3 separate regions of the Homo sapiens genome follow, and regions 1 and 2 are each linked to region 3. Evidence: fine-mapped expression QTL. A gene starts in region 3. Each other region holds a variant in brackets. All regions are shown on one strand. Distances are from middle to middle.

Region 1 (10,360 bases), 59 kb before region 3:
TGGGATGGCTGGGTCAAATGGTATTTCTAGTTCTAGATCCCTGAGGAATCGCCACACTGACTTCCACAATGGTTGAACTAGTTTACAGTCCCACCAACAGTGTAAAAGTGTTCCTATTTCTCCACATCCTCTCCAGCACCTGTTGTTTCCTGACTTTTTCATGATTGCCATTCTAACTGGTGTGAGATGGTATCTCATTGTGGTTTTGATTTGCATTTCTCTGATGGCCAGTGATGATGAGCATTTTTTCACGTGTTTTTTGGCTGCATAAATGTCTTCTTTTGAGAAGTGTCTGTTCATGTCCTTCACCCACTTTTTGATGGGGTTGTTTGTTTTTTTCTTGTAAATTTGTTGGAGTTCATTGTAGATTCTGGATATTAGCCCTTTGTCAGATGAGTAGGTTGCGAAAATTTTCTACCATTTTGTAGGTTGCCTGTTCACTCAGATGGTAGTTTCTTTTGCTGTGCAGAAGCTCTTTAGTTTAATTAGATCCCATTTGTCAATTTTGTCTTTTGTTGCCATTGCTTTTGGTGTTTTGGACATGAAGTCCTTGCCCATGCCTATGTCCTGAATGGTAATGCCTAGGTTTTCTTCTAGGGTTTTTATGGTTTTAGGTCTAACGTTTAAGTCTTTAATCCATCTTGAATTGATTTTTGTATAAGGTGTAAGGAAGGGATCCAGTTTCAGCTTTCTACGTATGGCTAGCCAGTTTTCCCAGCACCATTTATTAAATAGGGAATCCTTTCCCCATTGCTTGTTTTTCTCAGGTTTGTCAAAGATCAGATAGTTGTAGATATGTGGCGTTATTTCTGAGGGCTCTGTTCTGTTCCATTGATCTATATCTCTGTTTTGGTACCAGTACCATGCTGTTTTGGTTACTGTAGCCTTGTAGTATAGTTTGAAGTCAGGTAGTGTGATGCCTCCAGCTTTGTTCTTTTGGCTTAGGATCGCCTTGGCGATGCAGGCTCTTTTTTGGTTCCATATGAACTTTAAAGTAGTTTTTTCCAATTCTGTGAAGAAAGTCATTGGTAGCTTGATGGGGATGGCATTGAATCTGTAAATTACCTTGGGCAGTATGGCCATTTTCACGATATTGATTCTTCCTACCCGTGAGCATGGAATGTTCTTCCATTTGTTTGTATCCTTTTATTTCCTTGAGCAGTGGTTTGTAGTTCTCCTTGAAGAGGTCCTTCACATCCCTTGTAAGTTAGATTCCTAGGTATTTTATTCTCTTTGAAGCAATTGTGAATGGGAGTTCACTCATGATTTGGCTCTCTGTTTGTCTGTTGTTGGTGTATAAGAATGCTTGTGATTTTTGTACATTGATTTTGTATCCTGAGACTTTGCTGAAGTTGCTTATCAGCTTAAGGAGATTTTGGGCTGAGACAACGGGGTTTTCTAGATATACAATCATGTCGTCTGCAAACAGGGACAATTTGACTTCCTCTTTTCCTAATTGAATACCCTTTATTTCCTTCTCCTGCCTAATTGCCCTGGCCAAAACTTCCAACACTATGTTGAATAGGAGTGGTGAGAGAGGGCATCCCTGTCTTGTGCCAGTTTTCAAAGGGAATGCTTCCAGTTTTTGCCCATTCAGTATGATATTGGCTGTGGGTTTGTCATAGATAGCTCTTATTATTTTGAAATACGTCCCATCAATACCTAATTTATTGAGAGTTTTTAGCATGAAGGGTTGTTGAATTTTGTCAAAGGCTTTTTCTGCATCTATTGAGATAATCATGTGGTTTTTGTCTTTGGCTCTGTTTATATGCTGGATTACATTTATTGATTTGTGTATATTGAACCAGCCTTGCATCCCAGGGATGAAGCCCACTTGATCATGGTGGATAAGCTTTTTGATGTGCTGCTGGATTCGTTTTGCCAGTATTTTATTGAGGATTTTTGCATCAATGTTCATCAAGGACATTGGTCTAAAATTCTCTTTTTTGGTTGTGTCTCTGCCCGGCTTTGGTATCAGAATGATGCTGGCCTCATAAAATGAGTTAGGGAGGATTCCCTCTTTTTCTATTGATTGGAATAGTTTCAGAAGGAATGGTACCAGTTCCTCCTTGTACCTCTGGTAGAATTCGGCTGTGAATCCATCTGGTCCTGGACTCTTTTTGGTTGGTAAACTATTGATTATTGCCACAATTTCAGCTCCTGTTATTGGTCTCTTCAGAGATTCAACTTCTTCCTGGTTTAGTCTTGGGAGAGTGTATGTGTCCAGGAATTTATCCATTTCTTCTAGATTTTCTAGTTTATTTGCGTAGAGGTGTTTGTACTATTCTCTGATGGTAGTTTGTATTTCTGTGGGATCGGTGGTAATATCCCCTTTATCATTTTTTATTGTGTCTATTTGATTCTTCTCTCTTTTTTTCTTTATTAGTCTTGCTAGTGATCTATCAGTTTTGTTGATCCTTTCAAAAAACCAGCTCCTGGATTCATTAATTTTTTGAAGGGTTTTTTGTGTCTCTATTTCCTTCAGTTCTGCTCTGATTTTAGTTATTTCTTGCCTTCTGCTAGCTTTTGAATGTGTTTGCTCTTGCTTTTCTAGTTCTTTTAATTGTGATGTTAGGGTGTCAATTTTGCATCTTTCCTGCTTTCTCTTGTGGGCATTTAGTGCTATAAATTTCCCTCTACACACTGCTTTGAATGCATCCCAGAGATTCTGGTATGTTGTGTCTTTGTTCTCGTTGGTTTCAAAGAACATCTTTATTTCTGCCTTCATTTCGTTGTGTATCCAGTAGTCATTCAGGAGCAGGTTGTTCAGTTTCCATGTAGTTGAGCGGTTTTGAGTGAGATTCTTAATCCTGAGTTCTAGTTTGATTGCACTGTGGTCTGAGAGATAGTTTGTTATAATCTCTGTTCTTTTACATTTGCTGAGGAGAGCTTTACTTCCAAGTATGTGGTCAATTTTGGAATAGGTGTGGTGTGGTGTGCTGAAAAAAATGTATATTCTGTTGATTTGGGGTGGAGAGTTCTGTAGATGTCTATTAGGTCTGCTTGGTGCAGAGCTGAGTTCAATTCCTGGGTATCCTTTTTGACTTTCTGTCTCGTTGATCTGTCTAATGTTGATAGTGGGGTGTTAAAGTCTCCCATTATTAATGTGTGGGAGTCTGAGTCTCTGTGTAGGTCACTCAGGACTTGCTTTATGAATCTGGGTGCTCCTGTATTGGGTGCATATATATTTAGGATAGTTAGCTCTTCTTGTTGAATTGATCCCTTTACCATTATGTAATGGCCTTCTTTGTCTCTTTTGATCTTTGTTGGTTTAAAGTCTGTTTTATCAGAGACTAGGATTGCAAACCCTGCCTTTTTTTGTTTTCCATTTGCTTGGTAGATCTTCCTCCATCCTTTTATTTTGAGCCTATGTGTGTCTCTGTATGTGAGATGGGTTTCCTGACTACAGCACACTGATGGGTCTTGACTCTTTATCCAATTTGCCAGTCTGTGTCTTTTAATTGGAGCATTTAGTCCATTTACATTTAAAGTTAATATTGTTATGTGTGAATTTGATCCTGTCATTATGATGTTAGCTGGTGATTTTGCTCATTAGTTGATGCAGTTTCTTCCTAGTCTCGATGGTCTTTACATTTTGGCATGATTTTGCAGCAGCTGGTACCGGTTGTTCCTTTCCATGTTTAGCGCTTCCTTCAGGAGCTCTTTTAGGGCAGGCCTGGTGGTGATGAAATCTCTCAGCATTTGCTTGTCTGTAAAGTATTTTATTTATCCTTCACTTATGAAGCTTAGCTTGGCTGGATATGAAATTCTGGGTTGAAAATTCTTTTCTTTAAGAATGTTGAATATTGGCCCCCACTCTCTTCTGGCTTGTGGGGTTTCTGCTGAGAGATCCGCTGTTAGTCCGATGGGCTTCCCTTTGTGGGTAGCCTGACCTTTCTCTCTGGCTGCCCTTAACATTTTTTCCTTCATTTCAACTTTGGTGAATCTGACAATTATGTGTCTTGGAGTTGCTCTTCTCGAGGAGTATCTTTGTGGCATTCTCTGTATTTCCTGAATCTGAACGTTGGCCTGCCTTGCTAGATTGGGGAAGTTCTCCTGGATAATATCCTGCAGAGTGTTTTCCAGCTTGGTTCCATTCTCCCCATCACTTTCAGGTACACCAATCAGACGTAGATTTGGTCTTTTCACATAGTCCCATATTTCTTGGAGGCTTTGCTCGTTTCTTTTTATTCTTTTTTCTCTAAACTTCCCTTCTCGCTTCATTTCATTCATTTCATCTTCCATTGCTGATACCCTTTCTTCCAGTTGATCGCATCGGCTCCTGAGGCTTCTGCATTCTTCACGTAGTTCTCGAGCCTTGGTTTTCAGCTCTATCAGCTCCTTTAAGCACTTCTCTGTATTGGTTATTCTAGTTATACATTCTTCTAAGTTGTTTTCAAAGTTTTCAACTTCTTTGCCTTTGGTTTGAATGTCCTCCCGTAGCTCAGAGTAATTTGATCATCTAAAGCCTTCTTCTCTCAGCTTGTCAAAGTCATTCTCCATCCAGCTTTGTTCTGTTGCTGGTGAGGAACTGCGTTCCTTTGGAGGAGGAGAGGCGCTCTGCGTTTTAGAGTTTCCAGTTTTTCTGTTCTGTTTTTTCCCACCTTTGTGGTTTTATCTACTTTGGGTCTTTGATGATGATGATGTACAGATGGGTTTTTGGTGTGGATGTCCTTTCTGTTTGTTAGTTTTCCTTCTAACAGACAGGACCCTCACCTGCAGGTCTGTTGGA[G/A]TACCCTGCCGTGTGAGGTGTCAGTGTGCCCCTGCTGGGGGGTGCCTCCCAGTTAGGCTGCTCGGGGGTCAGGGGTCAGGGACCCACTTGAGGAGGCAGTCTGCCCGTTCTCAGATCTCCAGCTGCGTGCTGGGAGAACCACTGCTCTCTTCAAAGCTGTCAGACAGGGACATTTAAGTCTGCAGAGGTTACTGCTGTCTTTTTGTTTGTCTGTGCCCTGCCCCCAGAGGTGGAGCCTACAGAGGCAGGCAGGCCTCCTTGACCTGTGGTGGGCTCCACCCAGTTCGAGCTTCCCAGCTGCTTTGTTTACCTAATCAAGCCTGGGCAATGGCGGGCGCCCCTCCCCCAGCCTCGCTGCCGCCTTGCAGTTTGATCTCAGACTGCTGTGCTAGCAATCAGCGAGACTCCGTGGGCGTAGGACCCTCCGAGCCAGGTGCAGGATATAATCTCGTGGTGCGCCGTTTTTTAAGCCGGTCCAAAAAGCGCAATATTTGGGTGGGAGTGACCCGATTTTCCAGGTGCGTCCGTCACCCCTTTCTTTGACTCGGAAAGGGAACTCCCTGACCCCTTGCGCTTCCCAAGTGAGGCAATGCCTTGCCCTGCTTTGGCTGGCGCACGGTGCGCGCACCCACTGACCTGCGCCCACTGTCTGGCCCTCCCTAGTGAGATGAACCCGGTACCTCAGATGGAAATGCAGAAATCACCCGTCTTCTGCATCGCTCACGCTGGGAGCTGTAGACCGGAGCTGTTCCTATTCGGCCATCTTGGCTCCTCCGCTTTTTTTTAATTTTTATACAAATCCTGATTAGTAAGATACATATTCATATTATTAGTCCTCAGTTTCCTCATTCAGGAAATAATTCTACTTCACAGGGTCATTGGGAGGAAGTTTTTATTTGGCCTGATGTTCATGGGTTTAGCCAGGCTGGGTTTGTTTAGGCAAAGGAAGGACACATACACATATTTATAAATAAAAAGGTTTTACATGAAGGAAAACTGATTTTAAAGATTGTGACACTTGCCCACTAGTAAGTGGTTATCTTCAACAGTGCCACTTTAAAACAGATGCTGATGTGTTCATTTATTCTTCCCTGCAGCCAGTCATTGGCATAGCACACGTATGTGTATGGGCGGTGCCTGAACACTGGTCTGGTGTGAAGGTTAGGGCAGGGAGTTTTATTCTATTCAAAAGAGACACTGCTGGCTTCACATTACATTGGTCTCTAATTTTCACTTGCTTCCAAACTTACTACACCCTTGACATAGGTTAAAAAATAATATTTCATAGCAACGGTCTGGGTTTTTTTGTTTGTTTTTGGTTTTGTTTTTGTTTTGAGATAGGGTCTCACTGTGTCACCCAGGCTCACTTACAGGCTAGACCTCCTGGGCTCAAGCGGTCCTCCCACCTCAGCCTCTGGAGTAGCTGGGACCACAGTTATACATCACTATACCTGGCTAATTAATAGCAAGAATCTTTGCCTTGATAATCTCATTCCAAAGAAATAACTATAAAGAATTTTTTAATTCCATAGAAATATTGTCTATAGTGACCACCACCACAGTCAATCTGGAAACTTGAAGGTCTAACCTGAACGTCTGGAATATTATTAAGCAAATTCTCAAACTGGTAGAATATATTAATAAATAATAGAGACTAACAGTGTGGGAAAATGACAAAAAGAACTGCTAATGTACTCTGTGATTATAATTATGTAAAAAGATGTCTCAAAGTAGGCAGAGCATGGAAGATTACATACAAAAATTAAAATAGCTGTGTTAGTGTTGTGTTACTATAAACATTAAATTTTTCCCTTTATGACATTACTGACAAGGCTAATCCCCCCTAAAATGGAGTATTTTCCTATTTGGTGCCACAAAGCCAATACACAAAATTGAAAGTGTGCATCTAGCAGTGCAGGCTTTATTTGATGCCCATAGAACTGAGATGTGGGAGCCTGGCTCACAAATCAACTTCTCAGCCCATGAGGGATAGGGCATCCCCCTATGACAGCCAAGAAATCACAAATATAGGACATTCCCCATGAGAGCCAGGAAGTCACAGATATGGAGCATCTTTAATGAAGGGGTTGGGGAATTAAAAGCAAGGGGAAAAGTATTCATGTCTTTTCTGGGAATTAGGTAGATAACTTCTCAGAACCAGAGTTTTTGTCCCCCTTTTTTGTCCTTTTATGGTTTCTTCTGGTCGTTGTCATGGTGATTGTCAGCTGTCTTGGCACTGGGGGGAGGGTCATTTAGCATGGAAATTAGATTATAATGAAGTTAGAGGTTCTTCAGAGGTCAAGTGAGCTGCCATCTTGGTTCCCACCACTCTTAGCTGGTTTGGTGTCATGATGGGGAGCTTTTGACCACAGACATCCCGTTTCCTAAAGATAACCAGAGTTAAGGTGGGGAAGAAATTTACTTAGGTCACACAGACGTTACACTGGGTAACAACATTACTTTGACAACAAAAATAAATGCACTTTATAACAGAAAAAAGTCCAGGAAAAAATTGAGACACTTTAATATTTGTTATTGGTCTGAAAAAACACCCAAGTAGTCATGGGAAAGATTAGAAACTTGTTTAACATCTTTGCACTTACTTTATAATTTAGTATTTAAATATTTTCATTATAGATCCAGAGGGGCCTATAACCTTTTCAGTACTTAATGTCTCTAAGAGTCTTAAGCTGGTCTTGGGTGCAGTTCATTCCATTTTAAGGTTGAGAGAGTAGTGTTGGGATGTCCTCTGGTAAAATGAGTCTCAGCCTCCTCATAATGCCATTCTACTTTCATTAAAATTCTTCTTCATGATCCTGGGTTAATGGTCATGGTTTTGCCTTTCAGCTCTAGAGCAAGGTTTTTTTCTTGTAAGTAAGCAGTTGGTTACTGGAAACAGACCTGTGGTCCACCTGGAAGTGAACCAAAATATGGATGAGCAGAAAGCGCTTTCCCGCTTGGCAAAGGCTCATGGGCCTGGCTCCATAGGGTGGTGCCAGCTCCTGCCCTGTTCTTTTGTGCTGTGAAGACACAGGTGCCCCCTATGTTCAGTGACTTGACACTTAAATGGCAGTATGGTCTTTGGTAATAATAATGAAAACTAACAGCTATGCTTTTCACTGACAAAGGTAGGATATTGCAGGAAGCTTGATGTTGAATACTTTGGGGTTTTACTTTGAGAACTCCTAGTCCTGTATTGGACCTTGTTGGAAAGTTCCCTGAGCCTATGAGTGAGAAGGGGACAACTTGGGAGTCCCACGGTGAGCGGAAATGAGACCCGCTGGCTTGATAGTAACTAACTGCCATACGTTGAGCAGGACTCTGTGCCAGGCTTTGTGCCAGCTACTTTCCATGACTCATTTAATCCTCTCAACAACCTTTTGAGTCAGATTCTCTCAGTTTTTCCAAGGAGGAAATCAAGATTCTGGCCGTCTTAAGAGTGCTCCAAAGCCACACAGCTAGGGCGCTCCAGAGAGCTAATACCACATGGCCACACAGTGGCTCCACATGGCTTTTTAAAGAAGTTCCATGTCAGCATGGACATGACACAAGTGCAGGTGTGAAATATGGGAGCTGTAGCTTCTTTCCCAAAATCAATCAAGATGTCCTGTGGAAAGAAAGAGATATAGCCCTCGTTTACAGAATTTTTTTTTTCAATTGTCTTTTTCTTGATTAGGAAAAGTCTCCATGTTTCTGCTCAGAAGCTCACCTGTTTCTAATAAGAGAACCTTTCCATCAAATTAGGAGCCTGGTCTCAGTTTTACAGGAGGAATAGAAAATCTACCACTTGCCATCTGGAAGATCAAAGTATTTCCAAATAGAATTTAAGTCAATACCACACAAATTCTAATTCCCTAGAAGCAGCAGTTTTAATTTTGATAGTCTCTAAAAGCAATAACATTTGGTAGTTTCTGAGTAAATTTTAGACTCTCAAGGGTTTAGTTTTAGCAGTTTAATAAAATGTGAATTTTGTCTGCTGAGAAGTGAACTTTGTGGTAAGACTTGGCGAGTCTGAGGTCTGTGGTACTCCCCCTTTGGCCTTCAGTGGGCCATGCTCATTCCCTTCTTTCTTCTTTCTGGGCATATTTGCTGCCCAGATTCTGCAGTAAGGAGAGAGTGGCTGCCTTGGGGTGATTATTAGGTGAATACTCAGGTCTGGGGTTGGGAGGGACCTCGTAGGAACCACCAAAATCGAGCCTTTAAGGAACTGCCGCCTTGTAGTTGCTTAACTGTACAGGATTTCCCCCGCAACGGTCCCCTTCCTAACAGGCTGCTCTACAAAGCCAGGCTTGGACTCATAAGAACTCAGAGGTGGACCGTTGGAGGCCCTGCATGCCTTCCTCTGTCACGTGCTGCCCCTGGCAGCTCGGTGCTTCTTGCCATGGGCCTACCTGGATCCGCCACTCAGCAGTGAACAGCCGAGGAAGGTAGTGGACGTCGAACCTGGCCCGTGGGCTCTACCATGGCATGGTGATGAAGGCATGAACTTTGGCCCACTTGGCCTGTCCTGGCACCAGCCACCCCCTACTCACAAGTTATTTCCTCTGAGAAGCCACCTGAAGAGATTCAGAGGCCAGATGGAGAGACCTCAGAGGCTGCCACAGCCGCTTCCTGTCCCTTGGTAGGCAGAGAGGCCTGTGAAGGATCAAACTGGTGACACCCCTGGCCTTCATCAGGCTCTCCTCATAGCACATCACCCCAGAGCCCCTTCCCCACTGTGGAGTGAATCAGGATGGGGCTCAGGAGTCAATGAGTGCTTACCAAGCCAAGTCCCTTCAAAAACTCCAGACTCAACCCGTAAGAGTGTTTTCAGTATTTTATTAACAAATGAGCTGGCAAGAGGACAAGTGATCTAGTAGTATCACCCCCACCCTCATGGAGCAGCCACCACAAGCCCACCATGGTGGGGGGTGTCCAACATGCTCTGCTGGCCCAGTTCCCAGCCGATCCCCTGAGTCTTGGCGCCCGTTTAGTCACCCTTCAGCTGCTTGGGAGGCAGGAAGAGACTTCCCCTCTTCACGAGGTAAGGGAGACAAAAGCAGCCATTTGGATGCCAGGGCCACAGGGGCAAGCCATGCCCTATTTCTTTGGAGGGACAGAATCACTTCTTCCCAAGGCCAGACACTGTAGCCCATGGTACTCAGCCTTCTAGAGGAGGGTAGCCTAGCAGAGGAGAAGCCCTGAGTGGAAGCAGCATTTTGAAGGCATCGTCATTCTTAGACCAGCTAAGAGCTGAGGGCATTCTCTATCTTTGCCAGCAGACAGTGAGACTCCAGGATTAAAATTAAAAGCCCGTGGTGCATCCTTTCCTTGACATTAACTTTCCACAAAACCTTGGAGGAGTCAAATCCCACACTGCACATACTCCGGTGTCTCCAGCTGTGAAGTGGGACCAGTATCAATACATGGGAAAGTGCTGAGAAGGAAGAAAATATTTCAGGTATAATACTAATCCATCAAACACGTTTTATTCAAGAAGCTTGGCACCAACTTTGTGCCACATCCTCAACTCTTCAATGAAAAGAGCGGTGACCAACTCGCTCCCGTTGGTCCCTATGGCAGGTGTTGGAATGAGGTGAGGCTGGCCTCCTCTGTTTGCTCACAGCTTTATTCCTCTAGCTTCAGATA
Region 2 (10,360 bases), 33 kb before region 3:
CTCGGCAGAAACCCTACAAGCCAGAAGAGAGTGGGGGCCAATATTCAACATTCTTAAAGAAAAGAATTTTCAACCCAGAATTTCATATCCAGCCAAACTAAGCTTCATAAGTGAAGGAGAAATAAAATACTTTATAGACAAGCAAATGCTGAGAGATTTTGTCACCACCAGGCCTGCCCTAAAAGAGCTCCTGAAGGAAGCGGTAAACATGGAAAGGAACAACCGGTACCAGCCGCTGCAAAATCATGCCAAAATGTAAAGACCATCGAGACTAGGAAGAAACTGCATCAACTAATGAGCAAAATCGCCAGCTAACATCATAATGACAGGATCAAATTCACACATAACAATATTAACTTTAAATATAAATGGACTAAATTCTGCAATTAAAAGACACAGACTGGCAAGTTGGATAAAGAGTCAAGACCCATCAGTGTGCTGTATTCAGGAAACCCATCTCACGTGCAGAGACACACATAGGCTCAAAATAAAAGGATGGAGGAAGATCTACCAAGCCAATGGAAAACAAAAAAAGGCAGGGGTTGCAATCCTAGTCTCTGATAAAACAGACTTTAAACCAACAAAGATCAAAAGAGACAAAGAAGGCCATTACATAATGGTAAAGGGATCAATTCAACAAGAGGAGCTAACTATCCTAAATATTTATGCACCCAATACAGGAGCACCCAGATTCATAAAGCAAGTCCTCAGTGACCTACAAAGAGACTTAGACTCCCACACATTAATAATGGGAGACTTTAACACCCCACTGTCAACATTAGACAGATCAATGAGACAGAAAGTCAACAAGGATACCCAGGAATTGAACTCAGCTCTGCACCAAGCAGACCTAATAGACATCTACAGAACTCTCCACCCCAAATCAACAGAATATACATTTTTTTCAGCACCACACCACACCTATTCCAAAATTGACCACATAGTTGGAAGTAAAGCTCTCCTCAGCAAATGTAAAAGAACAGAAATTATAACAAACTATCTCTCAGACCACAGTGCAATCAAACTAGAACTCAGGATTAAGAATCTCACTCAAAGCCGCTCAACTACATGGAAACTGAACAACCTGCTCCTGAATGACTACTGGGTACATAACGAAATGAAGGCAGAAATAAAGATGTTCTTTGAAACCAACGAGAACAAAGACACCACATACCAGAATCTCTGGGACGCATTCAAAGCAGTGTGTAGAGGGAAATTTATAGCACTAAATGCCTACAAGAGAAAGCAGGAAAGATCCAAAATTGACACCCTAACATCACAATTAAAAGAACTAGAAAAGCAAGAGCAAACACATTCAAAAGCTAGCAGAAGGCAAGAAATAACTAAAATCAGAGCAGAACTGAAGGAAATAGAGACACAAAAAACCCTTCAAAAAATCAATGAATCCAGGAGCTGGTTTTTCGAAAGGATCAACAAAATTGATAGACCGCTAGCAAGACTAATAAAGAAAAAAAGAGAGAAGAATCAAATAGACACAATAAAAAATGATAAAGGGGATATCACCACCGATCCCACAGAAATACAAACTACCATCAGAGAATACTACAAACACCTCTACGCAAATAAACTAGAAAATCTAGAAGAAATGGATACATTCCTCGACACATACACTCTCCCAAGACTAAACCAGGAAGAAGTTGAATCTCTGAATAGACCAATAACAGGCTCTGAAATTGTGGCAATAATCAATAGTTTACCAACCAAAAAGAGTCCAGGACCAGATGGATTCACAGCCGAATTCTACCAGAGGTACAAGGAGGAACTGGTACCATTCCTTCTGAAACTATTCCAATCAATAGAAAAAGAGGGAATCCTCCCTAACTCATTTTATGAGGCCAGCATCATTCTGATACCAAAGCCGGGCAGAGACACAACCAAAAAAGAGAATTTTAGACCAATATCCTTGATGAACATTGATGCAAAAATCCTCAATAAAATACTGGCAAACCGAATCCAGCAGCACATCAAAAAGCTTATCCACCATGATCAAGTGGGCTTCATCCCTGGGATGCAAGGCTGGTTCAATATACGCAAATCAATAAATGTAATCCAGCATATAAACAGAGCCAAAGACAAAAACCACATGATTATCTCAATAGATGCAGAAAAAGCCTTTGACAAAATTCAACAACCCTTCATGCTAAAAACTCTCAATAAATTAGGTATTGATGGGACGTATTTCAAAATAATAAGAGCTATCTATGACAAACCCACAGCCAATATCATACTGAATGGGCAAAAACTGGAAGCATTCCCTTTGAAAACTGGCACAAGACAGGGATGCCCTCTCTCACCGCTCCTATTCAACATAGTGTTGGAAGTTCTGGCCAGGGCAATCAGGCAGGAGAAGGAAATAAAGGGTATTCAATTAGGAAAAGAGGAAGTCAAATTGTCCCTGTTTGCAGACGACATGATTGTTTATCTAGAAAACCCCATCGTCTCAGCCCAAAATCTCCTTAAGCTGATAAGCAACTTCAGCAAAGTCTCAGGATACAAAATCAATGTACAAAAATCACAAGCATTCTTATACACCAACAACAGACAAACAGAGAGCCAAATCATGGGTGAACTCCCATTCACAATTGCTTCAAAGAGAATAAAATACCTAGGAATCCAACTTACAAGGGATGTGAAGGACCTCTTCAAGGAGAACTACAAACCACTGCTCAAGGAAATAAAAGAGGACACAAACAAATGGAAGAACATTCCATGCTCATGGGTAGGAAGAATCAATATCGTGAAAATGGCCATACTGCCCAAGGTAATTTACAGATTCAATGCCATCCCCATCAAGCTACCAATGACTTTCTTCACAGAATTGGAAAAAACTACTTTAAAGTTCATATGGAACCAAAAAAGAGCCCGCATCGCCAAGTCAATCCTAAGCCAAAAGAACAAAGCTGGAGGCATCACACTACCTGACTTCAAACTATACTACAAGGCTACAGTAACCAAAACAGCATGGTACTGGTACCAAAACAGAGATATAGATCAATGGAACAGAACAGAGCCCTCAGAAATAATGCCGCATATCTACAACTATCTGATCTTTGACAAACCTGAGAAAAACAAGCAATGGGGAAAGGATTCCCTATTTAATAAATGGTGCTGGGAAAACTGGCTAGCCATATGTAGAAAGCTGAAACTGGATCCCTTCCTTACACCTTATACAAAAATCAATTCAAGATGGATTAAAGATTTAAACGTTAAACCTAAAACCATAAAAACCCTAGAAGAAAACCTAGGCATTACCATTCAGGACATAGGCGTGGGCAAGGACTTCATGTCCAAAACACCAAAAGCAATGGCAACAAAAGACAAAATTGACAAATGGGATCTAATTAAACTAAAGAGCTTCTGCACAGCAAAAGAAACTACCATCAGAGTGAACAGGCAACCTACAACATGGGAGAAAATTTTCGCAACCTACTCATCTGACAAAGGGCTAATATCCAGAATCTACAATGAACTCAAACAAATTTACAAGAAAAAAACAAACAACCCCATCAAAAAGTGGGCGAAGGACATGAACAGACACTTCTCAAAAGAAGACATTTATGCAGCCAAAAAACACATGAAGAAATGCTCATCATCACTGGCCATCAGAGAAATGCAAATCAAAACCACTATGAGATATCATCTCACACCAGTTAGAATGGCAATCATTAAAAAGTCAGGAAACAGCAGGTGCTGGAGAGGATGCGGAGAAATAGGAACACTTTTACACTGTTGGTGGGACTGTAAACTAGTTCAACCATTGTGGAAGTCAGTGTGGCGATTCCTCAGGGATCTAGAACTAGAAATACCATTTGACCCAGCCATCCCATTACTGGGTATATACCCAAATGAGTATAAATCATGCTGCTATAAAGACACATGCACACGTATGTTTATTGTGGCACTATTCACAATAGCAAAGACTTGGAACCAACCCAAATGTCCAACAATGATAGACTGGATTAAGAAAATGTGGCACATATACACCATGGAATACTATGCAGCCATAAAAAATGATGAGTTCATATCCTTTGTAGGGACATGGATGAAATTGGAAACCATCATTCTCAGTAAACTATCGCAAGAACAAAAAACCAAACACCGCATATTCTCACTCATAGGTGGGAATTGAACAATGAGATCACATGGACACAGGAAGGGGAATATCACACTCTGGGGACTGTGGTGGGGTCGGGGGAGGGGGGAGGGATAGCATTGGGAGATATACCTAATGCTAGATGACACATTAGTGGGTGCAGCGCACCAGCATGGCACATGTATACATATGTAACTAACCTGCACAATGTGCACATGTACCCTAAAACTTAGAGTATAATAAAAAAAAAAAGAATCTAAAAAAAAAAAAAAAAAAAAAAAAGAATTGAAGGCAGTCCTTGAAGAGACATTTGTATGCCCATGTGCACAGCAGCATTATTCACAACAGCCAAAGCATAGAAGCAAGCCAGTGTCTGTTCTTGGATGAATGAGTAAACAAAATGTGGCATAGCCATGCAATGGAGTATTACTCAGCCTTAAAAAAGAAGGAAATCCTGGCGGGGCACGGTGGCTCACGCCTATAATCCTGACACTTTGGGAGACCGAGGTGGGTGGATCATTTGAGGTCAGGAGTTTGAGACCAGCCTGGCCAACATGGTGAAACCCCGCCTCTACTAAAAATACAAAAATTAGCTGGGATTGGTGGCGGGTGCCTATAATCCCAGCTACTCGTGTGGCTGAGGCGAGAGAATCGCTTGAACCCAGAAGGCAGAGGTTGCAGTGAGCCGAGATCATGCCACTGCACTCCAGCCTGGGCAACAGAGCGAGACTCTGTCAAAAAAAAAAAAAAAAAAAAAAAAAAAGGAAATCCTGTCCCATGCTTCCATGTGGACGAATCTTGAGGACATGATGCTAGTGAAATCAGCCATCCCCAAAAGGCAAATACTGTATGATTCCACTTACATGAGGTAGAGTAGTCAAAACCATAGAGAGAGTAAGTAGCAGGGTGGCTGCAAGAGGCAGGGGGGAGGGGGACCGGGGAGTTATTGCTTAATGGGCACGGTTTCAGTTTCGCAGCATGGTGAAAGCTCTCCACTATCTCTCCCCGACAGCGAGCCCCAGTGGTCCTTCTGGTGTACTGATGTATGAAAAGAACAGCAAGGCCCGCCCCCCACACACACAGCAGGTTGTACCACATACATCCATCCCCTTCTACTCACCCAACCTCAGAGATTGATTTGCTGTTCTTCACAGCCAGGGCGAGATACTTCCCTCCTTCACTTGTTATTTTGTTTTTTCCCAGTCTGCAGAGAGAGTCACACACAGTCAGCCTCCAGCTATGCAGGGGCTCCAATGTGGGTCACCCTCCTCCCCAGCACAGAGCCCCTTCCAGCCCCATCTTGGGAACCGTACACTTTCTTCTGGGATCCACAAGAGCCATGGCCTGGGCCTCCTGTCAGGG[A/C]GGGAACTGAAGCCCTGAGGACAGTCAGTCAGGGTTCCTCTCCAGGAGATGGTCCACAGTCTCTGCAGAAGCTCAGGGACCTGAGCCCTCCCTGGGGTCCTCTAATTGACCTCAGCAGCATCACTGACTTCCCTCGGGAGACCTGGGAGGTCCCACTTTGACTGCCAAGGGTCAAGGTATGTGGCCACTGTCAGGGCAGGACCAGAGGCTCCAAGCCTGGCGCACTGTCACCCCCTGCGCAGGGCACACCTACAGCAGGGCAAGGGCCCAAGCTCTTCCTTGCAACCCGACAGGAAACTCCCTTGGGGCAAAAAGACCACCAGAAAGGGTGAGAGTTAGTCCTTTCTTCGGCCTAGTAGTTAATGAAATCAAAATGCCAACCTTTCCCCCTACCAATAACGGGAGGCCCTTCCAGAATCCAAGCCTCACAGATCACACAGAGGTATCTTTACTTGACCAACATGGCCCTGGGACAAGTGGAAGGCTTTAGGATGAAAGCTCTTTACTGTGACATTTAATCTTTGAACAACAGAAGGGGGTGATCAAGAGAATATACTAAGGAACCTGGTGCCTACCCCACTTACTTAAGATGCGTGAGGCCTTTGCATTCATCCAGGATTTTGGTGACGTACCTGGCTCCGACATCGGTGATCTGGTTGTTGTATAAACTTCAAGAGAAAGCACAGCCATGAGACTTTCTGGCTCCTGATGTCATTTTAATAGCCCCTGTTTTTTGAAGCATATGGTGTCTACTGATTTCCAAAGTCTGGGTTGAAAGGGGAACACACAGGCACCAGAGTTTAGGGCTCTGAGGTCTCACAGCTCAGGTTCAAAACCAGCTCCACTACTTTCCCCAGCTTTATGGCCTGAGACAAGTCACGTTACCTCTCTGTGCCTCAGTTTCTCCATCTGTAATACAGAGGTAATGATGATAGTCCCCTTGCAGGGTGGTTATGAGGATCTTAGGACATAACGCAAAGCCCTGGTGCATGAGTGCTCGGTGACTGGCAGGTGATGGGTATTTACAACTAAGATTACATTCAGCGTCTTGAGAAGAAAAGATTCTGAATATTAAAACTTCTCGATGTCTACCTTTCAGCCATCTCACCGCTCAATGCCAATTCAATAGTACAGCAGATGGAAGTTGAAAGGCAGCTAAGCTCAGGCTTCCAGGGTTCCACAGCCACACAGAGCCCTGGAGCCGAGTGTGGCCCGGGGTCGTTTGCGTCCATGTCCTCATTAACATCGAAGGCCACTGAGGCCCCAAGAAACTGAACAACTGCTCCAGCTTGCAGAGCCACCAGTTGTGTGGGGCTGGCCCGCAATCCCTTCTCTCAGACTCCAAAACCTCAAAGGCTCTGAATGCCCAAAGTTTCTCACAATTCTTTTGGCAACTGATGTGGAGCTACTTATAGTCTTTCTTACCACACTTGGTTTGACTGTTTCATACATTCTGCGGGAGAAATATGAAAGTGTTTGAAAATGGGGCACTGCCTTAGACCCCTGCGGCCACGTCATGCCATAGCATGCACTCAGAATCCCCATTCGGGTCTTGCCCCAAAGGCTCTGGATGAGGGATTATGGACCCAAAATAGTCCAGACTAATATGTAAACAGGATTCTAGCATTTATTAAATATATCCCCTTATATTCTCGTTGCATCCCCCAATAACCAGTTGTAAGCCTACTTGCCTATACTGGGATCCCAGTTTTACAGGTGAGGAGGCTGAGGCTCAGCAAGACTTCATGACTGGCCGAGCCACAAAGAGAACCCAGGACTCTCAACTCCTGGGCCAGCGCTCTTCCCAGCCCTGGGCCATCCGTGCCGATCATCCAGGGACCTATGGGAATGTGAATTCCCTGCAGCTCTGTATTATTACTAGGTAGTTGGCCCAGTGTTCTGGAGAAAGACATACCCCAAATAGGTCACAATTTTGTATTTGGTCAGCTCTTCGCTTAGCACCTTTACCCCACCGTCAGTGATCTGGTTTACGCTGAGTCTGAAATAAAACAGCAAAAAAATTACGAGTCAGGGCAGGCACTCATTATGAAGGACCATTAATCTTACAAAGATCCAGAAGCCTTCAGGCCCTGGAGTTTTCTCAGGTATAGACGCCCCTGGAGAATGGCCACAGCAATCAGCCAAATAGCCCCTTACAAAGCCTGGCCAACGTGGGGCCGCCAGACCCATCCTGCACCAGCCCATGAGCGAGGCTGCAGCACAGCCCCTGGCTCCTCACACGACCGTGAAGGACACAGGGAGGACGTGTGAGGCCAGCCACCTCTGACATCCACCCTTTGCGTGTGACCTATGTGTCAGCCAGACCCTGTACCTGGTTCTCGTATGGTGGAGGGCATGGGTTTGGAAATGTCAGGGGCTGCTTTTAGTGGTTGTGACTGGAGGAGGGAGTGCCCTGTCATCTTGCAGGCAGGGCCAATGATGTTAGGTGTCCTGCAAAATGCTGGACAGGTCTCACAAGAACTGTTATACCCAAAATGCCAACAGCTTCCCCCCATCCAGAAACACATGGGCTAACCCTGATTTGTCACTGGAAAAGGCTGTGAGTCCCACTGTCAAAGGAGACTGCTCATGTCATTCTGTAAAGTGTCAGACAGCAAATATTTTAGGCTCTGTGGGCCATGTGGTCTCTGTCACAGCTACTCAACTGTGTAGTGTGAAGCAGCCAGTAAGTAAATAAATGGGTATGGCTGCGTTCCAATAAAACTTTACTTAGAAACACAAGCCTTGGGCCCAATTAGACCCACAAGCTGACCTTGATAACAAGTAAAAGGCTGAACAATTAAAAGCTTGATTTTTAGGCCACATCAAAATGATCAAGTCAGACACTCTGGACCCTTTCCCTCAGAGTCCCCAGCTTGGTGCTGGGAAATAGTGTGTATGTACATGGCATGGCCAGCCCAAGACAGCACAGGCTGCTAGACATTCCCAATATCTATACTTTCTTAGCAATAGATTCCCCCATCTTTTAGCTGGGCCCATCTCATTAAATTCTGCCCATACCATTAAGTTCTGAAATCTAAGCAGCAATATAATTAGTAATAGCCAAGAAGTGTTCTTAAAAGATTGAGGCATGCTCTCAATCTTTGCCCTTCCTTCTTACTGATAGCTAGAGTGTCGACTAGATGGCTGGAGTTTGAGCAGCCCTCTTGGGCCAAGATGGGAAAGCCGGGTAGTGAGGATGGCAGAACAGGAAGGCAGAAGAGAGCCTGGGCTCCGGAGGGTCATGGAGACTCCATACCAGTCCTGAACTACCTACCTCTAGACTTTTACATGAGAGAAATAAGCTTGTAACTCACCAACATTTGGGGTTTTCGCTCTCAGCTAAAACTAATCCTAACTGATGCAGCCAGAGAACTGAGTGTGCTTCCCGTGGTTACCCATATCCTCTGCTTTCCTACAAGCTGTTTTTTCTTGCACTGGTGTGAAGGAAAGCTTCACCTGGGGACAGCAGGAAGGGCAGGGCCACCACACTGGTGTGGAGTTTCCCATTGAAAAGATGGACAGAGGGGTCGGGTGCGGCGGCTCATGCCTGTAACCCCAACATTTTGGAAGGCCGAGGCGGGCGGATCACCTGAGGTCAGGATTTCAAGACCAGCCTGGCCAACATGGGGAAACCCCGTCCTACTAAAAATACAAAAAACTTAGCCGGACATGGTGGCGTGTGCCTGTAATCCCAGCTACTCAGGAGGCTGGGGCAAGAGAATCGCTTGAACCCAGGAGGCGGAGGTTGCAGTGAGCTGAGATCACGCCACTGCACTCCAGCCTGGGCAACAGAGCGGGACTCCATTTGGGGGAGAAAAAAAAAAGATGGACAGAGGGTGGCACTGAGTGTGAGACTGCCTGGGGCTACAGAGGGAGAGTCACTGGCTGAGAGTACAGAGAACAGACTCCAGGTTTTCCAATTCCCAGGCTAGGGCAGCCTTCGACCCCCTGCACCCCATGTCCCCATGCAATTATTTACACTCTGACACTGGTGTGACAGGCACTGGGAGTCAGTTCCAAATCCCTACTGCTTTTTAGAAATGCATGAGTCAAGTAATGGCAAATTTAACCCCCTGTAGAGATTTACAAGGTTTATTTTACATAGGAAATGCTAATAGAAGAAAACAGACTGGGCTCTGTTTCCCGTAAACTATGGAACAGGAAAACAACCACGAGTCAGCATTTTAACTGAGGTCTCTAGCAGTGTGAAGGGCTGCTAGCGTTGATCACAGAAAGTCACCAGTGCCAACTGGCACAAGGTCTGCTTTCTCTGCAGTAATAAAAGCTCCCATATTCCAGAAACTTTTTGAGGGCTATCTCGGAGCCTTACATTAATCTTAAAAGGAAGGTTCTTTATGCATTCTGGCACTGCTATGTCTGAGCTGTGTGACCTAAAGCAAGCTATTAACTTCTCTGTGCCTCTACTTCCTTATCTGCCAAAATAGAGACAATAACAGTACCTAAGTTACAGGGTTGTAAAGAGCATTCCATTAGGTAATATTTGTAATGCACTTCACCCATTCTCAACTAACATTGGTCCCTGTGGCCATAATTGATAGGATTATGAGCATCTTCTTTTTCCAGATGAGGGCGTGGAGGCTCTGAGAGTTAAGCACTTTGTTCAAGGGCACCCAGCTGTGGCTGATCCAGGTCCACCTGCCTCGAAGCTTTGCACCTTGACCTCTGCCCTGCTAAGAAAGAAAAGGTCTGGACATTCCAAGGGCCATGGTCATGAGTCCTGGGGGATCCTGGTCCATGATGCCATTCCCGATGCCCTCCGAGCCTGGCCCGCCCGGCCCACCTGTTGCTCCCCTTGCCTGGCAGCCTCACCTGAGAACAGTGAGGCGGCTGAAGCAGGGCTGCAGCTCCCGCACGCCGTAG
Region 3 (10,360 bases):
TCTATAAAACAAGGGAAATGATAACCACTGCACAGGGGCGCTGGGAAGATAAAATGAGCTAAAAACAAACAACAAAAACCCTAAACTCTTAGACCAGTGTGGGACACAGGAAGTCTATGTAAATGCTATTCTTATTTAGGGTCTACCAGATCAGGCCTGTCATCATTTCATTTAATCAAATCAAGCCTCAAAGCAATCTTTCCAGATAGGTAGAGTTAGCCCATTTTACAGATTCAAAAGCCAAGGCTCAAGAAGATTAAAAACCTTATCTGAAGTCACACAACTAGGAGAAGGAAAGACCAGCCCTGGAACCAAAGTAATCATCATAATCTTTATCATCATAATCATGACTTACTAGAAGCTGGGTGATGTGCTAAGCACTTTACATAGATTAGCTCATCAAATACTGAAAACTGCCCAGCAAGGAAAGCATTATTGTAACTAGTTTACAAAGGAGGACACAGAGTTGGAGTGGTTAAGTATGTTGGTGAAGGTCACACAGTTAGTTAAGGCAGTGATCCCCAACCTTTTTGGCACGAGGAACTGGTTTCATGGAAGACAATTTTTCCACAGACAGCGGCGAGTAGGGGCACAGGGGAGATCGTTTTAGGATGAAACTGTCTACCTCAGATCATCAGGCATTAAATTCTCATAAGGAATGTGCAGCCTAGATCCCTCGCGTGTGCGGTTCACCATAGGGTTCCCCTCGCATGAGAATCTGATGCCACCGCTGATCTGACAGGAGGCAGAGTTCAGGCGGTAATGCTTGCTCACTGCTGCTCACCTTCTGCTGTGCGGCCCACCTAAGAGGCCACCGACTGGTATTGGTCCATGGCCTAGGGATTGGGGACCCCTGAAGTAAGGAATAAAACAGGAATTGGATCCTGGTTCTGACTCCAAAACCCATTGTTTCTTCCATTTCAGCCCTGCATGTCTGGTATACTTTATAGACCCAACATCTCTATTTGAAATCATCAACACGCCTGTTTTCATATTAAGTATGAAACACTAGCTTTGTTAAATGGAGTCCAGAAATGACCCACTCACTGAAGGGGCCTGTGTTGTAAGGAGTTAGGATATCCCCTGCCAAAAAAGCCTAGCTTTCCCCCAGTTCCTTCCAAGAAGGTTTGGTTTTGAGGTCATAGGCAGCAATCTGGGCATGTGTTACAAGAAGCAGGGGAAGTTCTTACTCATTAGACTTTTAATCTTTTGGGAATTAGAAAACGAATACTCTCCCAAGTAAATCATCATCTGCTCTCAGCTCTGCTATCATGTAAGGCGTTTCCTTAGCAATATGTGACTGCCAGGCCCAGTTGCATGTGGCTCTGAAAATATCTACCAAATGACTACATTCTCCCAATTCTGACCCTAACCTGTATGGTGGCAATGACAGAACAGAAGGCCAAGGGACATCAACTTTCTGAAACAAATGTAATCAAGGTGAATGTTCATGTTTTATTAAAATCTTAATCTGCCAAAATCTGGCACTAATCTGGTGCTCACTTTGAAATTATCTGGGCCCTTACTACAGTGCTCTATAATTTAGAGGAAAAGGACGCTTCAGTAAAACAAATTCTAAAGTGGCAGTTTACTGGAGAGTAACTTTTAATTTCCATGCAGTATAATACAAAATTGCCTTGTTGGCTCTAAGGACGTGCATCCCTCATCAGGGAACTCTGCCCCATTAGAGGACCAAGGTGAGATCCCTTCAGAGTGGCATCATCCCCGGTTGGCTCAATGGCTCCAGAGACAGGGAGGATGGCGAAGAGAAGGGCCGGTGGCATGCCTGCCTTAGCCAACTCTGCACAGGAATCTCTGCCCACAGTTTGGACTGTGGCAGTTCCAGATAAAACACATGTTTAAATAAGAGTTCAAGCCAGGAAGTCTTGCCTGAATGAACTTTCTAGCGTGGGTAAAAAATGTCAGCTAACTGACATGCCAGTGACTACTCACCTCTCACCACAAGAGTCAAGTTTAGAAACAACACTTGCCCTCAACGAGTATTTGATGCGCTAAAGAGTTTTTCCAGAAACCAGGTCAGACCTTTTGGATAAATCAAAGGAGGCCCCTTGTGTGACATGCAACTGACTGTCCCTAGAAGATAAAAGAAAATGGGACTTCTGAAAACTTGCAAAATACCTAGAGCCTCTGCATGACAAAAATTCAGCATAAGTACACATTTTAGCTTTTCTAATTTCTTCTTGCCTAAAAAAAATCCCCCCAATAATAAGAATGATAGAAGAAACTAGTAACTTAAACCTTAAATCCTACGTTCATATCTTAGATTTTGAACAAATATTGAATCCTTTTCTTTGAATAAGAGATAAGACTTTGATAGTCTTGTGTAAGCAAATATCAGTGATCACACATACACTAGAAAAACACTTGATCTTTATGCCTATATTACTTACTGTTTCTATTTCTGATGTCTAATCTAAACAGCACTGCTGTTAGGATCAAAGTGACCATCCATGATGCACAGAGCACGTACCAGGGTAAAGTTCCAGCTGGGACGCAGGCATCAGCAATTGTAGAATTTGGGTTCTCCCTTCCTCAGATCCCTGACTGTCCTTGGTCATTCAAGAAAGATTCACTGTCCCTAGGCCAAGAGTCAGGAGCAAAACAGGAACACCAAGGGTATGGTCTGAGGATGTTGTCAGCAGGGAGCAACGTGCGTGTGTGTGCACATACACTAATTCTGAGACACTGTGCACAGCCCAGCTTTCTTGGAAAGCCATTTAAAAGATATATATGTGGCAACAGAGAGGAGGAAGTCTCAAGATTAAGAACAGCTTTTGAGTGTGTGTGTGTCAAAATATTCATTCCTATCACATGCAGTAAAACTGTATTCCAGAGCCATTAATACGCCCTGGGGGACTGAGGGGATTTGCAGCCTAAGATTTCAGACTTAAAGCCCGCTAAGGCCCTGAGCGGGGCAGCAGGGCAGGAGAAGGAATGGAGCGTTGAAGGGAACATTTTATAGACATTCTCCCTCATAGTGGCTGTACTAAGTAAACAATTAACGGGCACAAACTGCCACTCCAGTGTCTAATAACTACCTCTGCCAGAGCACCTGCCAGCGCCACCACCTTCCAGGTGTGTGATGCACATCATCTCGCTGAACTATGCTAGCCTCAGGAGAGGGTTGCTCTTTATTTTACAGGTGGGAAAACAGGGGCTTGGAGAGGTCAAGGAACTTGCCCAAAGTCACAGCATAGAAGTGACAGAATCCGAGTTTTGACCCAGATTTGATGGGTTCCAAAGCGTGAACTTATTTCTCCACTCCACAAAAATAAAACCTACTCTTCTTACAATATTTGAAAGAGCCCTCTTCTACCACTCTGCTGTTTGTTTTAAACACAGCTTGCTTATCTGTCTGGCATATTCGGTAGAAGTCTGTACTTTGTCAATGCCTGGTTTGCCTGGATTTCAGCTACCTGGCCCCTGGCATCTAAGCCTGGGTGAGAACAGGGAATCCACTCCTCTCTAAGATGCATCGTGGAGTTACTCTTTTACTCTTCCCTGAAAGTGATAGTTCAATCTTCAACAGGGGCTTTGAGGGAGAACAAACTCGACCCTTTGGCAAGCACGACTTCTGGCTTCACCGTTTTTTTGTTTTTTGTTTGTTTGTTTGTTTTTGACGGAGTTTTGCTCTTGTTGCCCAGGCTGGAGCGCAACAGGGCGATCTCGGCTCACTGCAACCTCTGCCTCCCGGGTTCAAGCAATTCTCCTGCTTCAGCCTCCCGAGTAGCTGGGATTACAGGCATGCGCCACCACGCCCGGTTAATTTTTTTTTTTTTTTTTTTTAGTAGAGACGGTTTCACCATGTTGGGCCAGGCTGGTCTCGAACTCTCGACCTCAGGTGATCCGCCTGCCTTGGCCTCCCAAAGTGCTGGGATTACAGGCGTGAGCCACCGCGCCCGGCCCTGGCTTCACCCTTAAAGCAGAAAGGCCAGAAGTCATCAAGGCCATGGGTTTACTAGCTTAGCTTCCCCAGACTTAATTTCAAACACCAACAACCGAAATGTTTCCTAGAATGCAGAGCTAATGAGACATCAACCTCTGTCATTTCCTATGTTTTTCACAATGTGCCAAAACAACTGCACACATTGGAGGCGTTTTTGAATGTGATATTCAGGCGACCTTGCCAAGCATTGTCTCATTTCCTTACTTTGTGGAGCATGAAACCCAAGGGAAGTTCTCACCCTCTCTCCAGGACCAAGCAGGACACTGGGAGCTGCTGTCCCGTCTGCAGGCGGGACTCCATGAAGGCCCCTGTCTGCCCTTCCAGCCTTTGCCACAAACCCTCGAACGCTGGCTGCACACTGGAATCACTTGGGGAGCTTTTAAAAGATACGGAGGCCTGGGTCTGACTCCGTGAGATTCTGATGGAATTGATCTAGGGTGCAGCCTGGATATCTGGATTTTAAAAGCTCCCCAGGTGGTTCTAAGCTGCTGGCACGATTGAGAACCCCTGCGTTCGACCACAGTGGGATAAACGATTCCGCTGACTGTGAAGTTCATCCCTCTCAACTTTCGCTACATGCTTCAAACTCGCGGGTTTCTCCGCTTGGTTCCACCCAGAGCTCCTCCAGAGCCGCGCTGCGTTCCGCCCGCACGCAAATCCCGCCTCCCTGCGCCTCCTCACTCGCAGCGCCCAGGACCTCAGAAAGGGCCTGCCCCGCGCGAATCCCCAGTCGCTGGGACTTACTTGGCCACCAGGTTTACAGACTTCGCAGCCGCTGAGAGCTAGAGAAGAGCCCGGAGAGCGCCATGGTCCGGGGACGCCGGGGCCGGGAAGCGCCGTGGCCCGGGAGGACGCTGCTCCCGCAGTAGCGCGAGGGAGGGGCAGGACCGGGGCGGCTGCCTCGCGGGCCCGGAACGGGAACTGGCTGCGACTACAGCCGCAGCCGCGCCCCTCTGTTGGCGCGCCCAAGAGCCTGCCGGCTGCTGGGAGAGGCCGCCGAAGGGCGGGGGCGGTCAAGGCAGGGTCCCACGGTGCTGCCATTCGCCCGGGTCTGGCGCGGGGGGGCGAGAGAAGCTGCGCGCAGAGGGACGCCCGGTGCGAGAGGGTGAGCCCCTGGCCACCGCGCAGGGCCGAGTGGACAGGCCCAAGTTCGCCCAGAGGTGACACACTTGGGAATTTGTGGTGCCATCGTGCCAGGTCCCTCCTCGTAAAAGTGCCTACCCAGCGCCTGCAACCAGAGCCAAAGCCTGGACATGATAGGGAAACTCTTGTTAAAACGCGACACGTGGTCCTGATGAAATGGAGGTTAACGTAATCAAATTTAAATTACACTGCATACATTTCAATTTATACTTTTTAAAAAATGTAAGCTTTTCTTCCTATCCTTAAATTTGTTCTTGGCAGTGTACATTTTATGTTCTATGCATATGCTCTAATAGGTTGTAAAAGAGTTTTAACATGCTAATAAATGTCCCCAATAAAATAGTTTTAAAACGTTTTGAATGGGGATCGTGTCCATAAGGGATATCATGCTACAGAAAGTTGTCACTTACTCACACTGAAGAAGTACATTCAATCATATAGCCACTGATGCTTGTGAGTATTAAAATTCCCATCAGAGGCTGCCCTCTGAGAAACAGAAAGTATGTTCTTAAATCAAAAGTGAAAGTGCAAACTAAAGTTGATAGGATCAAATGTGCCAACTTGTGTCAGGCCTCTGAGCCCAAGCCTGCATGTATACATCCAGATGGCCTGAAGCAACTGAGGAATCACAAAGGTAGTGAAAATGGCTGGTTCCTGCCTTAACTGATGACATTACCTTGTGAAATTCCTTCTCCTGGCTCAGAAGCTCCCCCACTGAGCACTTTGTAGACCTTCCACCCCCCCGGCCCCCGCCTTGCCCACCAGAGAACAACCCCCTTTGACTGTAATTTTCCACTACCCACACAAATCCTATAAAGCTACCACACCCCTAACTCCCTTTGCTGACTCTTTTTTTCGTACTCGGCCCACCTGCACCCAGGTGAAATAAACAGCTTTATTGCTCACGCAAAGCCTTTTGGTGGTCTCTTCACACGGACACGTGTGACATTTGGTGCCGAAGACCCGGGACAGGAGGACTCCTTCAGGAGACCAGTCCCCTGTCCTCACCCTCACTCTGTGAGGAGATCCACCTATGACCTCGGGTCCTCAGACCAAACAGCCCAAGGAACATCTCACCAATTTCAAATCGGGTAAGCGGTCTTTTCACTGTCTTCTCCAGCCTCTCTCACTACCCTTAAATCTCCCTCTATTTCCAATTCCAGTTCTTTCTCCTCTCTAGTAGAGACAAAGGAGACATATTTTATCCATGGACCCAAAACTCCAGCTCCGGTCACGGACTCAGGAAAACAGTCGTCCCTTGGTGTTTAATCACTGCAGGGACACCTGCCTGATTATTCACGTACATTTCATTGGTGTCTGATCACCGTGGGGATGCCTGCCTTGGTCATTCACCCACATTCCCTTGGTGGCAAGTCAATTGTGGGTCGCCTGCTTTGGCTGCTCAGCCACATTGCAGCCCAGGGCTGCTCACCACCCCCCTTCTCCGGGTCTCTACCTTCTTTTCTCTGGGCTTGCCTCCTTCACTATGGGCAACCTTCCACCCTCCATTCCCCCTTCTTCTCCCTTAGCCTGTGTTCTCAAGAACTTAAAACCTCTTCAACTCACACCTGACCTAAAACCTAAACGCCTTATTTTCTTCTGCAATACCGTTTGACCCCAATACAGACTCAACAATGGTTCCAAATAGCCAGAAAACGGCACTTTCAATTTCTCCATCCTACATGAGCTAGATAATTATTGTCGTAAAATGGGCAAATAGTCTGAGGTGCCTGATGTCCAGGCATTCTTTTACACATTGGTCCCTTCCTAATCTCTGCTCCCAATGTGACTCATCCCAAATCTTCTTTCTCTCCTGTCTGTTCCTTCAGTCTCCACCCCAAGCTCTGAGTCCTGTGAATCCTCCTTTTCTATGGACCCATCTAACCTCTCCCCTCCTCCCCAGGCTGCTCCTCGCCAGGCTGAGCCAGGTCCCAATTCTTCCTCTGCCTCCACTCCCCCACCCTATAATCCTTCTATCACCTCACCTCCTCACACCCGGTCCAGCTTACAGTTTCGTTCCGCAACTAGCCCTCCCCTACCTACCCAACAATTTCCTCAAGGTTAATGCTCCTTTTTCTTTATCCAACCTCTCCCAAATCAATTAGCATTTAGGCTTTTTTTCATCAAATATGAAAACATAGCCCAGTCCATGGCTCTTTTGGCAACAACCCTTAGACACTTTACAGCCCTAGACTCTGAAAGGTCAGAAGGCTGTCTTAGTATGCATTTTAGTACCCAATCCACTCCCGACGTTACATAAAGCTCCAAAAATTAGAATTCGGCCCTCAAACCCCACAAAAGGAATTAATCAACCTCACCTTCAAGGTGTACAATAATAGAAAGGAGGCAGCCAGACAGCAATGCATTTCTGAGTTACAATTACTTGCCTCTGCTGTAAGACAAAACCCAGCCGCACCTCCAGCACACAAGAACATCAGAATGCCTAAGCCGCAGTGGTCAAGCATTCCTACAGGACCTCCTCCATCAGGATCTTGCTTCAAGTGCCAGAAATCTGGCCACTGGGCCAAGGAATGTGTGCAGCCCGGGATTCCTCCCAAGCCATGTCCCATCTGTGCAGGACCCCACTGGAAATCAGACTGTCCAACTCGCCCAGCAGCCACTGCTAGAGCCCCTGGAACTCTGTCTGGCCCAAGGCTCTCTGACTGACTCCTTTACAGATCTTCTCGGACTGACGCTGCCCGATCGCCTCAGAAGCCTCCTGGACCATCACAGATGCTTTGGGTAACTCTTACAGTGGAGGGTAAGTCCATCCCCTTCTTAATTAATACGGAGGCTACCCACTCCACATTACCTTCTTTACAAAGGCCTGTTTCCTTTGCCTCCATAAATGTTGTGGGTATTGATGGCCAGGCTTCTAAACCTCTTAAAACTTCCCAATTCTGGTGCCAACTTGGACAACATTCTTTTATGCACTCCTTTTTAGTTATCCCCACCTGCCCAGTTCCCTTATTAGGTCGAGAAATTTTAACTAAATTATCTGCTTCCCTGACTATTCCTAGGCTACAGCCACACCTCAATGCTGCCCTTTTTCCCAGTTCAAAGCCTCCTTTGCATCCTCCTTTTGTATCCCCCCACCTTAATCCACAAGTGTAGGACACCTCTACTCCCTCCTTGGCAACCGATCACGCAACCCGTACCATCCCATTAAAACCTAATCACCCTTACCCCGCTCAACGCCAATATCCCATCCCACAGCACGCTTTAAAAGGATTAAAGCCTGTTATCACTCACCTGTTAACAGCATGGCCTTTTAAATCCTATAAACTCTCCTTACAATTCCCCCATTTTACCTGTCCAAAAACCGGACAAGCCTTACAGGTTAGTTCAGGATCTGCGCCTTATCAACCAAATTGTCTTGCCTATCCACCCTGTGGTGCCAAACCCATATACTCTCCTATCCTCAATACCTCCCTCCACAACCCCTCCATAGCCCATTATTCTGTTCTGGATCTCAAACATGCTTTCTTTACTATTCCTTTGCACCCTTCATCCCAGCCTCTCTTTGCTCTCACTTAGACTGATCCTGACATCCATCAGCCTCAGCAACTTACTTGGGCTGTACTGCCACAAGGCTTCATGGACAGCCCCCATTGCTTCAGTCAAGCCCAAATTTCTTCCTCATCCATTACCTGTCTTGGCATAATTCTTCATGAAAAAACACATGCTCTCTCTGCTGATCCTGACTGGCTAATCTCCCAAACCCCAGCCACTTCTACAAAACAACAACTCCTTTCCTTCCTAGGCATGGGTAGGTACTTCCGCCTTTGGATACCTAGTTTTACCATCCTGACTAAACCATTATATAAACTCACAAAAGCAAACCTAGCTGACCCCATTAATCCTAAATCCTTTCCCCACTCCTCTTTCCGTTCCTTAAAAAACAGCCCTAAAAGCTGCTCCCACACTAGCTCTCCGTAACTCATCCCAACCCTTTTTTCATTACACACAGCCGAAGTGCAGGGCTGTGCAGTCAGAATTCTTACACAAGAGCTGGGATTGTGCCCTGTAGCCTTTCTGTCCAAATAACTTAACCCTACTGTTTTAGCTAGCCCCCATTATTCCTGATACCACACCTGACCCCCATGACTGTATCTCTCTAAATCCACCTGGCATTCACTCCATTTCCCCATATTTCTTTCTTTCCTGTTCCTCACCTTGATCGCACTTGGTTTATTGTTGGCAGTTCCACCAGGCCTAATTGCCATTCACCAGCAAAGGCAGGCTATGCTATAGTAGTATCTTCCACATCTATCCTTGAGGCTACCACTCTGCCCCGCTCCCCTACCTCTCAGCAAGCCAAACTCATTGCCTTAACTTGAGCCCTCACTCTTGCAAAAGGACTACACGTCAATATTTATACTGTCTCTAAATATGCCTCCCATATCCTGCACCACCATGCTGTTATATAGGCAGAAAAAGGTTCCCTCACTACGCAAAGGTCCTCCATCATTAATGCCTCTTTAATAAAAACTCTTCTCAAGACCACTTTACTTCCAAAGGAAGCTGGAGTCATTCACTGCAAGGGCCATCAAAAGGCATCAGATCCCATCACTCAGGGCAATGCTTATGCTGATAAGGTAGCTAAAGAAGCAGCTAGAGTTCCAACTTCTGTCCCTCATGGCCAGTTTTTATCCTTCTCTTCGGTCACTCCCACCTACTGTCCCACTGAAACTTCCACTTATCAATCTCTTCCCACATAAGGCAAATGGTTCTAGGACCAAGGAAAATATCTCTTTCCAGCCTCACAGGCCCATTCTATTCTGTCATCATTTCATAACCTCTTCCATGTAGGTTACAAGCCGCTAGCCCATCTCTTAAAACCTCTCATTTCCTTTCCATTGTAAAAATCTATCCTCAGAAAATCACTTCTCAGTGTTCCATCTGCTATTCTGTTTCTCCTCAGGGATTTCTCAGGCCCCCTCCCTTCCCTACACATCAAGCTCGAGAATTTACCCCTGCCCAGGACTGGTAAATTGACTTTACTCACATGCCCCGAGTCAGAAAACTAAAATACCTCTTGGTCTGGGTATACGCTTTCACTAGATAGGTAGAGGCCTTTCCCACAGGGTCTGAGAAGGCCACCGCGGTCATTTCTTCCCTTCTGTCAGACATAATTGCTCGGTTTGGCCTTCCCACCTCTATACAGTCCAATAACGGACCAGCCTTTATTAGTCAAATCACCCAAGCAGTTTCTCAGGCTCTTGATATTCAGTAAAACCTTCAATACCC

Alleles and levels. Alleles are on the strand shown, and positions count from the first base shown. SD is a standard deviation of normalised expression in the study named. Not every link is listed here.
In carriers of allele C in region 2, the expression in whole blood of the gene that starts at base 4,890 in region 3 tends to be higher than with A alone (moderate effect, 0.69 SD a copy in GTEx).

Evidence for each region. PIP is the estimated chance that this variant, and not a neighbour inherited with it, causes the effect.
Region 1: its variant is fine-mapped to the expression of NOD1 in whole blood (INTERVAL, PIP above 0.99).
Region 2: its variant is fine-mapped to the expression of NOD1 in whole blood (TOPMed, PIP above 0.99). The same link has a PIP of 0.9 or more in aorta, blood mononuclear cells, breast, cerebellum, esophagus mucosa and esophagus muscle.

The regions. Positions count from the first base shown.
Region 1 is chr7:30,414,997-30,425,356 of GRCh38, forward strand. It overlaps NOD1 (nucleotide binding oligomerization domain containing 1), which reads right to left. Exons shown (of 14, transcript NM_006092.4): 14 at 9,531-10,360. Among named protein-coding and RNA genes, the nearest start is that of LINC01176, 29 kb to the left of the region's middle. RefSeq lists an enhancer at 4,619-5,222. The variant G/A (reference allele first, on the strand shown) is at 4,733.
Region 2 is chr7:30,440,907-30,451,266 of GRCh38, forward strand. It overlaps NOD1 (nucleotide binding oligomerization domain containing 1), which reads right to left. Exons shown (of 14, transcript NM_006092.4): 6 at 10,310-10,360; 7 at 7,392-7,475; 8 at 6,061-6,144; 9 at 5,235-5,318. Among named protein-coding and RNA genes, the nearest start is that of NOD1, 33 kb to the right of the region's middle. RefSeq lists a silencer at 4,933-5,092 and an enhancer at 8,620-9,120. The variant A/C (reference allele first, on the strand shown) is at 5,477.
Region 3 is chr7:30,473,895-30,484,254 of GRCh38, forward strand. NOD1 (nucleotide binding oligomerization domain containing 1) reads right to left here and starts at 4,890. Exons shown (of 14, transcript NM_006092.4): 1 at 4,712-4,890. RefSeq lists an enhancer at 4,386-5,130 and a silencer at 4,779-5,018.